2 separate regions of the Homo sapiens genome follow, and region 2 is linked to region 1. The links come from fine-mapping of genetic effects on gene expression. A gene starts in region 1. The other region holds a variant in brackets. All regions are shown on one strand. Distances are from middle to middle.

Region 1 (5,380 bases):
AAGATAAATTAAAGGGGAAAGTCTTTTCAACAAGCTACTAAGGAAGTTGAATATTGACCTTCAGAAACACGAACTGAGCTCCTTACTGCATGCATTAAAGTTAACTCACACTGAAATGGTACATTTAGCAGCAGATATTAGAGGATATCTTCGTGACAGAGGGTTGGGGAAGGAGTTGTGTTTCCTTTTCTTTTAAAAAACTCAGAAATAGCCGGGTGCAGTGGCTCACAACTGTCATCCCAGCACTTTGGGTGGCCGAGGCAGGCAGATCACCTGAGGTCAGGAGTTTGAGACCAGCCTGACCAATATGGAGAAACCCTGTCTCTACTAAAAATATAAAATTAGCCAGATGTGGTGGCGCATGCCTGCAATCCCAGCTACTCAGGAGGCTGAGGTGGGAGAATTGCTTGAACCCGGAGGCAGAGGTTGCGGTGAGCCGAGATTGCACCATTGCACTTCAGTCTGGGCAACAGGAGCAAAACTCCATCTCAGAAAAAAAAAAAAGACAAACTCAGAAATAAACATCCTAACTCAGAAAAGCATGGTGTTGCCATAGAACTGACTGTGAGGAAACTAACAGCAATACTTTCTATATTGTGTTTAAACTTGCACATACAAATTTTGGGCTTTCTAGCTTCTCTTAGGATTTCTTTTATACTTTCTCTGGGGGAGGGGGTGTGGGTCTCACCATTGTTGATTTTTCCTTCATCATGGTAATGCGAACAGCTATTTTTGTCTGGAAGCTTTTATATGTATTTAAATCATTGCAGAAATCAACTACTTACTTGTTGCCATTTGTAAAAATATACAGAATCTGTATATAAACCCCTGACAATCAGTTAGTTTGATACATTGTGCCCTCTTTTAATATGTGTGGAAACAAATAAATAGAACATTGTTCCAGGAGCAGTTAATGTGAGGAGTGAGGGGTGGAGCATTTCATAAAATAGTAGTTTATCCTTCAGAGAGCAGTTTCTAGCATAATAGACTGTGGGAGTGTGTGTGTGTGTGTCTGTGTGTGTGCTTATTATTTTTTTTTAAGGAAACAGTATCATTTATGCATTAGGTTATACTCAGACGTCATTTTTTTCATTCATTTTCTAAACGTGCCCATTTGTCCTGGCAGAAAATGCTATAGTTTCTAGAAGTTGATTGAAGATTTCATTTCATCTATTGACATCTCATGTTCAGCTCCTTTCTATTTAGCCATGGCTACCAGCTTCTAGTTCATAACGCTTTTTTTTTTTTTTTTTTGAGATGGAGTTTTTTTTTTTCCTCGCTCTGTTGCCCAGGCTGGAGTGCAGTGGTGTGATGTCGGCTCACTGCAACCTCTGCCTGCCGGGTTCAAGCGATACTCCTGCCTCAGCTTCCTGAGGAGCCGGGATTACAGGAGCGTGCCACCACACCCGGCTAATTTTGCGTTTTTAGTAGAAACGGGGTTTCATCATGTTTGTCAGGCTGGTCTCAAACTCCCGACCTCAGGTGATCCACCCGCCTCAGCCTCCCAAAGTGCTGGGATTACAGGCGTGAGCCACCGCGCCCGGCCATAACGCTTTTAAGTCTAGTATTTTTACTTCATAAACATATGGAGAAAGGCTAATGTTTTCAAATTCAAAGTGTGATGTCTTGGCTTTTGATTGGAGCGTTTAATTCATTAACATTTAATGGCATAAGGAGGGAGCATTTCCACGCTGTGCAGAGGGGACAGGTATTTTGAGACCTCAGAGTAAAATTCTTAATTGTCCCTCCCTTATCACCAGCTTCTGATCCACCCCGGAGCTCCATTTTAGGAATCATTGCCTGGCTTCCCAGCTTGGGGATATGTTTGACCTCCTGAAAGGGGGTCTGCTTGTGAACTGTGAGTGCAGTAGGCTGCTTCTCTGAGCTTGTTCAAGTTTTTGCTTTTCTTCTCTTTTGATTCTTTATGAAATATTGCTGCCATATAATTCCAGTTTTTCCACATACTCAACTATTTTATTTTGTTGTCCTGTTTTTATCTTCTGGGCTGAAAATGAGTAGATTGAGAGATAAGGTGAGGGAAAGGCTTGGCAACGTCGCCAACAGCCTCATCCCAAATTCCTGATCCCTGGAGGACATCAGGCCCTCCCTCCTGCTGCAGGGTGGCCTGTGTGCCCCGGGCTCCCCTCCTGCTCCGAGGTCCGGGAATGGCTCCACTGGACAGGGAGCCTGGAATTCCCTGCACACACTTGTGAGTCCCTGTCCAGGAGGAAAAAGCAGGAAGAACCCACTGAATACAATCAGGAAATTCTAAAATGCAAACGTCACTTCGGGAGGGGTCAGGTCACTCCGTTGGGAGGAAGCCCGCCTTGCCAAGGGTCGTGCCTGGAACCTGTTCATCCGGCTCCACTCAGCACTGTGAGATCGCTTCTTCTGTCAATCAGCCACCAAGGGGCGGGACCTGGAGCACTATCCAATCAGGGATGAGGGGGCGGGGATTGTGAGAACTGTCAATCAGGCACGCTGCAGGGAGGAGGGTGCGACGTTCAAAGAGCCCGCGGAGTCTTCTCCACGCCCCTGCGCTCTGAGTCCTGGCTCTGGCGCTGAGAGAGAGACGCCCTGGAAGGTCTGTATCAGCGTCTGTCGCGCTGGGACCCACACTGGCTTTTAAGGAGGACACCCGGACACCTGGAAGCTGGGAAATGGTGAGTGTGCGGGGCCCGGCGTCCCGAGGCAAAGAAGGGGCAGGTTGGAACCGGCCGGAACCGACCGTGAGGGGACCCGGGCCTCGCCCTGGGCGACTCCGGGGTCTGCAAATCCCAGTGCCCCTGGCGCAGCTCTGCCCTTGGTCCCCTGGGCCGCAAGATGGGGCTGGGGCGGCAGCCGGGACCCCGGGCGTCCTGTCCCGTCCCTGCTCGGCCGCTGCGGCCCCGGCCCCGGCGCCCTCTCTGGGCAGCTCCGCGCCCGCAGCTCCGCGTCTCCCCAGATTGTGCAGTTGTAACCGGCACAGGTTCACGGCCCGAGTCACTGCACCGAGACGCCGAAGGCTGCAGCAGAAACAGTTTAATGGGGGAGAGGGGAGGACACCCCAGATCCGCCTCCCTGAGAGGTTTGGGGATGGGGTGTTTAGAGGTGTGGACAGGGACGGCTGGAGTGTGGGGTCGCTGGTTGGTGGAGAAGTGAGAGGTGACTCCTGGGACTGGAGGTGAAGAAACCGCATTCTGCTGAGTGGGTTCCCTTGTGGGGTCTTCAGCCTGGTTGGCGCCAGCCTTTCCGCTGCAATTCAGGATCCGAGAAAGAACTGAGGCGACCCGTGAGCAACTCTCAAGAGATCTTATCCCCGGGCACGATGAGGAAGCCGGCGGTCAGCGTCTGCTGTGACCTGACTCTCAGGGAGGCGGCCCCGTGAGGCAGCGGGGCTGAGGGCACCTGGTTAATATCTAACTGCAATCTCGCCTCCAGCCTGGCTCGCAGTTCCTGTGAACCCGGTGAGGACGCTGCACGGTGACAACGGAGGGTCACCAGGCAGAATCCAGACTCGTGTGTGTGGGCTTTGTGCTTTGGAAGAGAAGCTGTGATCTGTGGGTTCCCCAGTCCCTTCTTTCTTCCCAAAGGTGACCGGTTTCCCTCCGAGTCTTCCAAAGATGTGGGCAGCAGGGTCTCAAATCCACCACCCTATCCCCTCATCCTAACTCCTCCTAGGGCTGGCAGCAAATCTCTTGGTTTTCAGAGCCTTCCCCAGGCTAACTGTCTCTCATCAATTCCCAGCAACTTTATGAACTCTTTGTCCCTCAGGCAATATTTCAAACAGAGGCATTATTTTAATTGTCACTTTCTTTTCACATAGCAATGTATGGCTCTTTTTAAAAGATGTGTTTTTGTGTTTGTGAACATTTCACATGTGAGGAAGCAAAGAATAACCACTTGACTCCAGTGTGAAAAAAAAAAAAAAAAAAAAAAAGCCGGGCGCGGTGGCTCACGCCTGTAATCCCAGCACTTTGGGAGGCTAAGGCTGGCGGATCACCTGAGGTCGGGAGTTCGAGACCAGCCTGACCAACATGGAGGAACTCCGTCTCTACTAAAAATACAAAATTAGCCGGGGTGGTGGCTCATGCCTGTAATCCCAGCTACTTGGGAGGCTGAGGGAGGAGAATTGCTTGAACCCGGTAGGCGGAGGTTGCGGTGAGCCAAGATCACGCCATTGCACTCCAGCCTGGGCAACAAGAGTGAAACTCCGTCTCAGAAAAAAGAAAAAGAAAAAAAAAATAGTGCATGTGTGGCTGTCCTTTATCTTGTCTACACAGAGATACCCGAATATTTTCAGTCGAGGTTCCTCTTTGCAAATGGCACAGGGTGATCTGTCAGCCCACCCTCTATGGTGTCCTGGTCCTGGGTTACAGAACTGTTTGGGGCTGCTCCAAGATGCTCATAGCTGCTAAGTCTTTTGTAGTGTCTAGTGAATATCAGCTTTGAGTCACTCCTCCCAGAGGACAGCCAGAGGTGGGGGGTGGGACCTTATAGGGGAGCAGCTGGATGTCGTGGGGTGGGAGGAGTTTCCTGGTATACTGTTCCTCAAAAAGCAAAGCCCTTAAGACATTCAGCTTTTCTTCCCCACCCCAGTTTCCATTCCCTGGGGACACATGGCTGATGAGCCAGCTGGTTGGCGGTATTGAGGGAGCTTCTCCTTGGAGGGTAATTACTCAGCAGTTCAGTGAGCAGCACTGGGGTGGGAGATGTCCCAAGTGATAAGAGGACCTGAACTGACACTAAAGTAGTCAGATTTGTCTGTGTTCCAGTCAGCCCCTCCCTGCATTTGTCATCTTGAAAAGATTTGTTCACTCATTTCAGCTTTTTATTAACTGCAAAATGCATTTTATCATTAGAGCTTAATAAAGAAGATAAAGTATGTTCAAAGAGACAAGAACAAGTTGGGTTTCAGCAAACTCATTACATATTTAGTCCTATATTTTATTTCTTTTTAAAACTTTTATTTACTTTTTTTTGAGACGGAGTCTCGCTCTGTCACCCAGGCTGGAGTGCAGTGGTGGGATCTTGGCTCACTGCAGCCTCAACCTCCTGGGTTCAAGCAATCATCCCACCTCAGCCTCCTGAGTAGCTAGGATTACAGACGTATGCTACCATGCCCAGCTAAAACTTTTGTATTTTTAGTAGAGACGAGGTTTCACCATATTGGCCAGGCTGGTCTCGAACTCCTGACCTCAAGTGATCCACCTGCCTTGGCCTCCCAAACTGCTGGGATTATAGGAGAGAGCCACCGTGCCCAGCCTCAGGTCTGTTTTTTTATTGGATGATTTCAAACGGAATTTCAGGGCCTAGCAGTGAACAGAAATTGGGAAAAACTTTTCCTTTATGACTGCAGAAAAATGAATACATTTTTGCAAGAAAGTGTGGTGGATATATT
Region 2 (5,380 bases), 570 kb before region 1:
ATCTATCTGCAGACAACTTTAAGAGTTTCCTAATGGGCCAGGCACAGTGGCTAACGCCTGTAATCTCAGCACTTTGGGAGGCCGAGGTGGGTAGATCACGAGGTCAGGAGTTCGAGACCAGCCTGGCCAACATGGTGAAACCCCGTCTCTACTAAAAATACAAAAATTAGCCGGGCGGAGTAGCGGGTGCCTGTACTCAGGAGGTTACTCGGGAGACTGAGGCAGGAGAATTGCTTGAACTCGGGAGGCGGAGATTGTGGTGAGCCGAGATAGTGCCACTGCACTCTAGCCTGGGTGACAGAGCAACACTCCGTCTCAAAAAAATAAAAAATAAAAAATAAAGAGTTTCCTAATGAAATGACTTAAATGTCACCTCCATGAATGTATATATACAAACTTTGCTGGATTGAAGTTTCTTCATCCCAACCCCTGCTGTCTAGAAATGCTATAAATGTAAGTAATTTAGGAAAATCTGATTAAAATTAAGACATGTATAATGCTCCAGAGAATTTGCAATAGGAAAGAAATGAAAACGTATAACTCTATTCTCTTTCTCTTTACCAGTGCCTCATTCTTAACATGAATCTACACTATGAATCCTACTTCTTACTTTCATACAAAAATTGATGTGAGATATTTTTGCAAGTTTTCTTCACATAAAGGTTCATAAGTCGAATAGTGTTTTCTTAATAGAAGCAGTTAATAAAATTTCTTTCCATTTTGTATTCTCTGGGATTCTTGAGTTGCTTGAAGTATATTTCTTTCTTTTTCTTTTCTTTTTTTTTTGAGACAGAGTCTCACTCTGTTGCCCAGGCTGGAGGGCAGTGGCGTGATCTCGGCTCACTGAAACCTCTGCCTCCCGGGTTCAAGCGATTCTCCTGCCTCAGCCTCCTGAGTAGCTGGGATTACAGGTGCCCGCCACCATGCCCAGCTCATTTTTGTATTTTTAGTAGAGACAAGATTTCACCATGTTGGCCAGGCTGGTCTTAAACTCGTGACCTCGGGTGATCCACCCGCTTCGGCCTCCCAAACTGTTGGGATTACAGGCGTGAGCCACCGTGCCCAGCATTGAAGTGTATTTCTAATAGACACTTAGGTTTAATTGCCTCTTCTTTTATTTTTCTGTTTAGAGATAGGGTCTCATTTTGTCTCACCAGGATAGAGTACAGTGGCATGATCATAGCTCACTGTAACCTCGAACCTGGGCTCAGGGCATCCTCTTGCCTCAGCCTCCCAAGTAACTGGAACTAGAGGCACACCCTGCCACGCCTTGCTAATATATATATACGTGTATATATATATACACACACATACATATATATATACATATATATATACACATACATATATATGTGTATATATATGTGTGTGTGTGTATATATATATATATATATATATATTTTTTTTTTTTTTTTTTTTTAGAGATGGGGGCCTCACTTTGTTGCCCAAGCTGGCCTCTAGCTCCTGGCCTCAAGCGATCCTCCAACCTAAGCCTCTGAAAGTGCTGGGATTGCAAGTGTGAGCCACTGTGCCCAGAAATATGTTTAATTCTTAGATGGTTTTAAAATTGCTGTATAGCTAAAGAGCTTATGAAACATGACATTTTGGTGTTTGTTGTGACTTTACCACTGGCCTCTTGGAGCAAAGAAAACCCTTCTTCTCCATCACTTTCAGCCCATCCCCGAGCAGTATGGGCTGGCTGGCAAGGAGGACCCACATACTTTTGCTGCCTGCTGGTGCACACGCTTCCCTGAATACCAAACTCCCAGACTGAGCACATGGGTGGCCATGTGCAAGCGCTACAGCCTCAGCACATTGCTGAGCACACATGCATCCTCCTGATCAGTTCCCGTGAGTGGCCATTCCTGCACTTCAAGAGCAGTGGGCCAGGACATAGCAGTGCTGGGAAGGCGGCCTCGCCCTCGCCACATCATCTTCTTAAGGATGTCTCACTTGTCTCCTCTCCCAGTTCCAGCCCCAGCCCCAGCCCCTTGCTGCCCCCACCTGAGATGTTCTGTTAATTCAAATACCCTAGTGGTGAGGAATATGCAATACCCTTATGGCTGGGTCAGGTTAAGGGGGAAACTTGTAAGACGCACTTCTGAAATTTCACGGGGAACTATAGATCCTCAAATTCAGCTTCTGGCTCAGCAGATTAGGGACAGAGTGTGAGAGTCCACGTTTCTAACTCGCTCCCACGTGTCATCGTGTTGGTCCATGGAACATAGAGTGCTCAGGTAATAAAAGACGTGGTTAGATAGGCAGTAAAGTTACACTTTTATAGGATAAGTTACGCTTTTAAAGATAGGTTACACTTTTATAGTTTTTTTTTTTTTTTGAGACAGAGTCTTGCTCTGTCGTCCAGGCTGGAGTACAATGGCACGATCTCGGCTCACTGCAACCTCTGCCTCCCGGGTTCAAGTGATTCTCCTGCTTTAGTTTCCCGAGTAGCTGGGACTACAGGTGCCTGCCACCATGCCCAGCTAATTTTTGTATTTTTGGTAGAGACGGGGTTTTACCATATTGGCCAGGCTGGTCTCAAACTCCTGACCTTGTGATCCACCAACCTTGGCCTCCTAAAGTGCTGGGATTATAGGCGTGAGCCATCGCGCCCGGCCGTTTATGGGATTTTGAGCAGAGAAGTGATGTTTGGTTTGTGTTTGAAGAAGCTTACTCCTGCTGGTGGGCAGAGAATAGATGGTAGAGGGGACCTGGGAGACCAGCTTAAAAGCCATAGTTGTAGTTTGAAGAGAGGCTGTGCTGGCGTGGGTTTGGGTAATATTAGTGGATATCGACAGAAGGTTGTGTATTGAGAAGTCTAGTTATGAACCCAAGCTGTGTTTTTGGAGCCGGGTTCCAGGGTGGGGAAAGGCCCCATCAATCCCACTGTTTAGCAGTTCTGGACATAAACAAAGGATCAGTGGTGATCGTCTTCAGCGCAGTAGAGAAGAGTGTGTGGCTCTAAAATATGATGGTGGAGAGGGTTCTCACACTAGTCTGAGAGACTAAGGGAGGCTTCCCCAGTGAGACTAATTCTCAAAGCCTGAAGGTGGCCAGGCGCAGTGGCTTACGCCTGTAATTCCAACACTTTTGGAGGCTGAGGTGGGCTGATCACTTGAGGTCAGGAATTCCAGACTAGACCAACCTGGCCAACATGGTGAAACTCTGCCTCTACTAAAAAACACAAAAATTAGCCAGGTATGGTGGCACATGCTTGTAATCCCAGCTACATGGGAGGCTGAGGCAGGAGAATTGCTTGAATCTGGGAGGCAGAGGTTGCAGTGAGCCGAGATCACGCCACTGGACTCCAGCCTGGGCGACAGAGCAAGACTCGTCTCAAAAAAAACAAAAAAAAATTCCTGAAGGTTGACTAGGAGTTACACAGGCAGGGGCAGCTCCC[G/C]TAGGATTTCTGATGGAGTGAAGGAGAGAAGAGAGGCAAGGATGAATCCTATTTTCAGAGCCCCTGGGTGCTTCCCCTCACTCAGAGGACCAAGGCCAGGGGAGATGATTGGAGGGGAAATGAAGGGTTATGTTTTGTAATCACTCATGGCATGTTTGAGTCAAACAAGCGAAGTGTTGACCAGGGTATTGGATCTGGAGCCTGAGAGAAAGATCTAAATGAAATTTGGAAAACATTATCATATGGATGCTATTTGATGCCCTGGGTCCAGCAGAAGCCACCTTGTTTCAGGGTAAGGGGCAAAGTGTAGCAGAAGACAAGTGCTCAGGAGGAGACCAATGGCTGTCCACCTCTGAGGTTAGCAGGAGGAGCAGCCTGCAAGAGACTGGGCAGGCCAGTGACTTAGGAGGAGAATGAATTGGGTGTCCCTTCCTGGAATCCTCCAGGAGAAGGTATTTCAAGATGGGAGAGTGGTCACCTATGTCACAGGCCACAGAGAGTTTGAATGAAACAAAACTGGATTGACGGGCGCAGTGGCTCATGCCTGTAATCCCAGCATTTTGTGAGGCCGAGGCGGGCAGATCACTTGTGGTCAGGAGTTCAAAACCAGCCTGGCCAACATGGTGAAACCCCATCTCTACTAAAATATACAAAAATTAGCCAGGTGTGGTGGCAGGCGACTTAATCCCAGTTACTTGGGAGGCAGAGGCAGGAGAATCATTTGAACCCAGGAGGCAGAGGTTGCAGTGAGCCAAGATCGAGCCATTGCACTCAAACCTGGGGGATAAGAGTGAGACTTCTCTCAAAAAAAAAAAAAAAAAAAAAAAAACAGAAAAAAACCCGGATCAACGGCAGCTTTTGGCAAGCATTTGATCACTTTAGGCTTTGATAAGAGCTGATTCTTTATTCAGGGGAATAACTTGTATTGAAATGTATTTCAGGCTGGGCACGGTGCCTCATACCTGTAGTCCCAGCACTTTGGGAGGCTGAGGCGGGCAGATCGCTTGAGGCCAGGAGTTTGAGACCAGCCTGGCCAACGTGGCAAAACCTCATCTCTTCTAAAAATACAAAAAATTAGCCAGTGTGGTGGCGCATGCCTGTAATCCCAGCTACTCAAGAGGCTGAGGTGGGAGAATCTCTTGAACCCAGGAGGCAGAGGGTGCAATGAGCTGAGATCGCACCACTACACTCCAGCCTGGGCAGCACAGCAAGACTCTGTCTCAAAAAGAAAAAAGAAAAGTCAAGAAGTGTATTTCAAATAGATCTTCAAGATGTTGCCTAGGGCAGGGGTCCCTAACCCCTGGGCAACGGATCAGTAATAGGTCCATGGCCTGTTAGGAACTGGGCCACTCACGTTACTGCCGGAACTCTGCCTCCTGTCACATCAGCAGTAGCATTAGATTCTCATAGGAGCACGAACCCTGTTGTGAACTGTGCATGTGAGGGATTTAGGTTGCACGCCCCTTATGAGAATCTAATGCCTGATGATCTGTCAGTGTCTCCCGTCACCTCCAGATGAGACCATCTAGTTGTAGGAAAACAAGCTCAGGGCTCTCACTGATTCTACATTATGGTGAGTTGTATAATTATTTCATCATATATTACAATGTAATAATAATAGAAATAAAGTGCACAATAGATTTAATGCAGCTGAATCCTCCCAAAACCGCACCCCTCCCCCGCAGTCTGTGGAAAAGTTGTCTTCCATGAAACTGCTCCCTGCTACCAAAAAGGTTGGGGACCACTGTCCTAGGGGGCAGTGATACCCTTGGAGCTGCCAAGTTTAACCACTGGATTTCTTTTCTAGTTTCACAGAGGAATCACCATTACTGACTTTTTTCATCATGGTAATGTGAACGTCTATTTTTGTCTGAAAGTTTTTATATGTATTTAAATCAACACGGTAATTGACGACTTAATTGCTGCAGTTTGTAAAAACATACAAAGTCTGTAAGTGAACCCCTGACACCCACTTAGTTC

Direction of the effects. Positions count from the first base shown, and alleles are read on the strand shown. Sizes are in standard deviations (SD) of each study's normalised expression.
For the expression in monocytes after LPS of the gene that starts at base 2,534 in region 1, allele C in region 2 goes with a higher level than allele G (moderate effect, 0.49 SD a copy in Fairfax 2014).

The links. PIP is the estimated chance that this variant, and not a neighbour inherited with it, causes the effect.
Region 2: its variant is the best candidate, but not a certain one, in a credible set for the expression of ZNF823 in monocytes after LPS (Fairfax 2014, PIP 0.61).

What each region holds. Positions count from the first base shown.
Region 1 is chr19:11,736,100-11,741,479 of GRCh38, reverse strand. ZNF823 (zinc finger protein 823) reads left to right here and starts at 2,534. Exons shown (of 4, transcript NM_001080493.4): 1 at 2,534-2,663. The coding sequence starts at 2,661. RefSeq lists silencers at 2,356-2,550, 2,811-2,960 and enhancers at 2,561-2,640, 3,031-3,160.
Region 2 is chr19:12,304,714-12,310,093 of GRCh38, reverse strand. No RefSeq gene overlaps it. Among named protein-coding and RNA genes, the nearest start is that of ZNF44, 13 kb to the right of the region's middle. The variant G/C (reference allele first, on the strand shown) is at 3,401.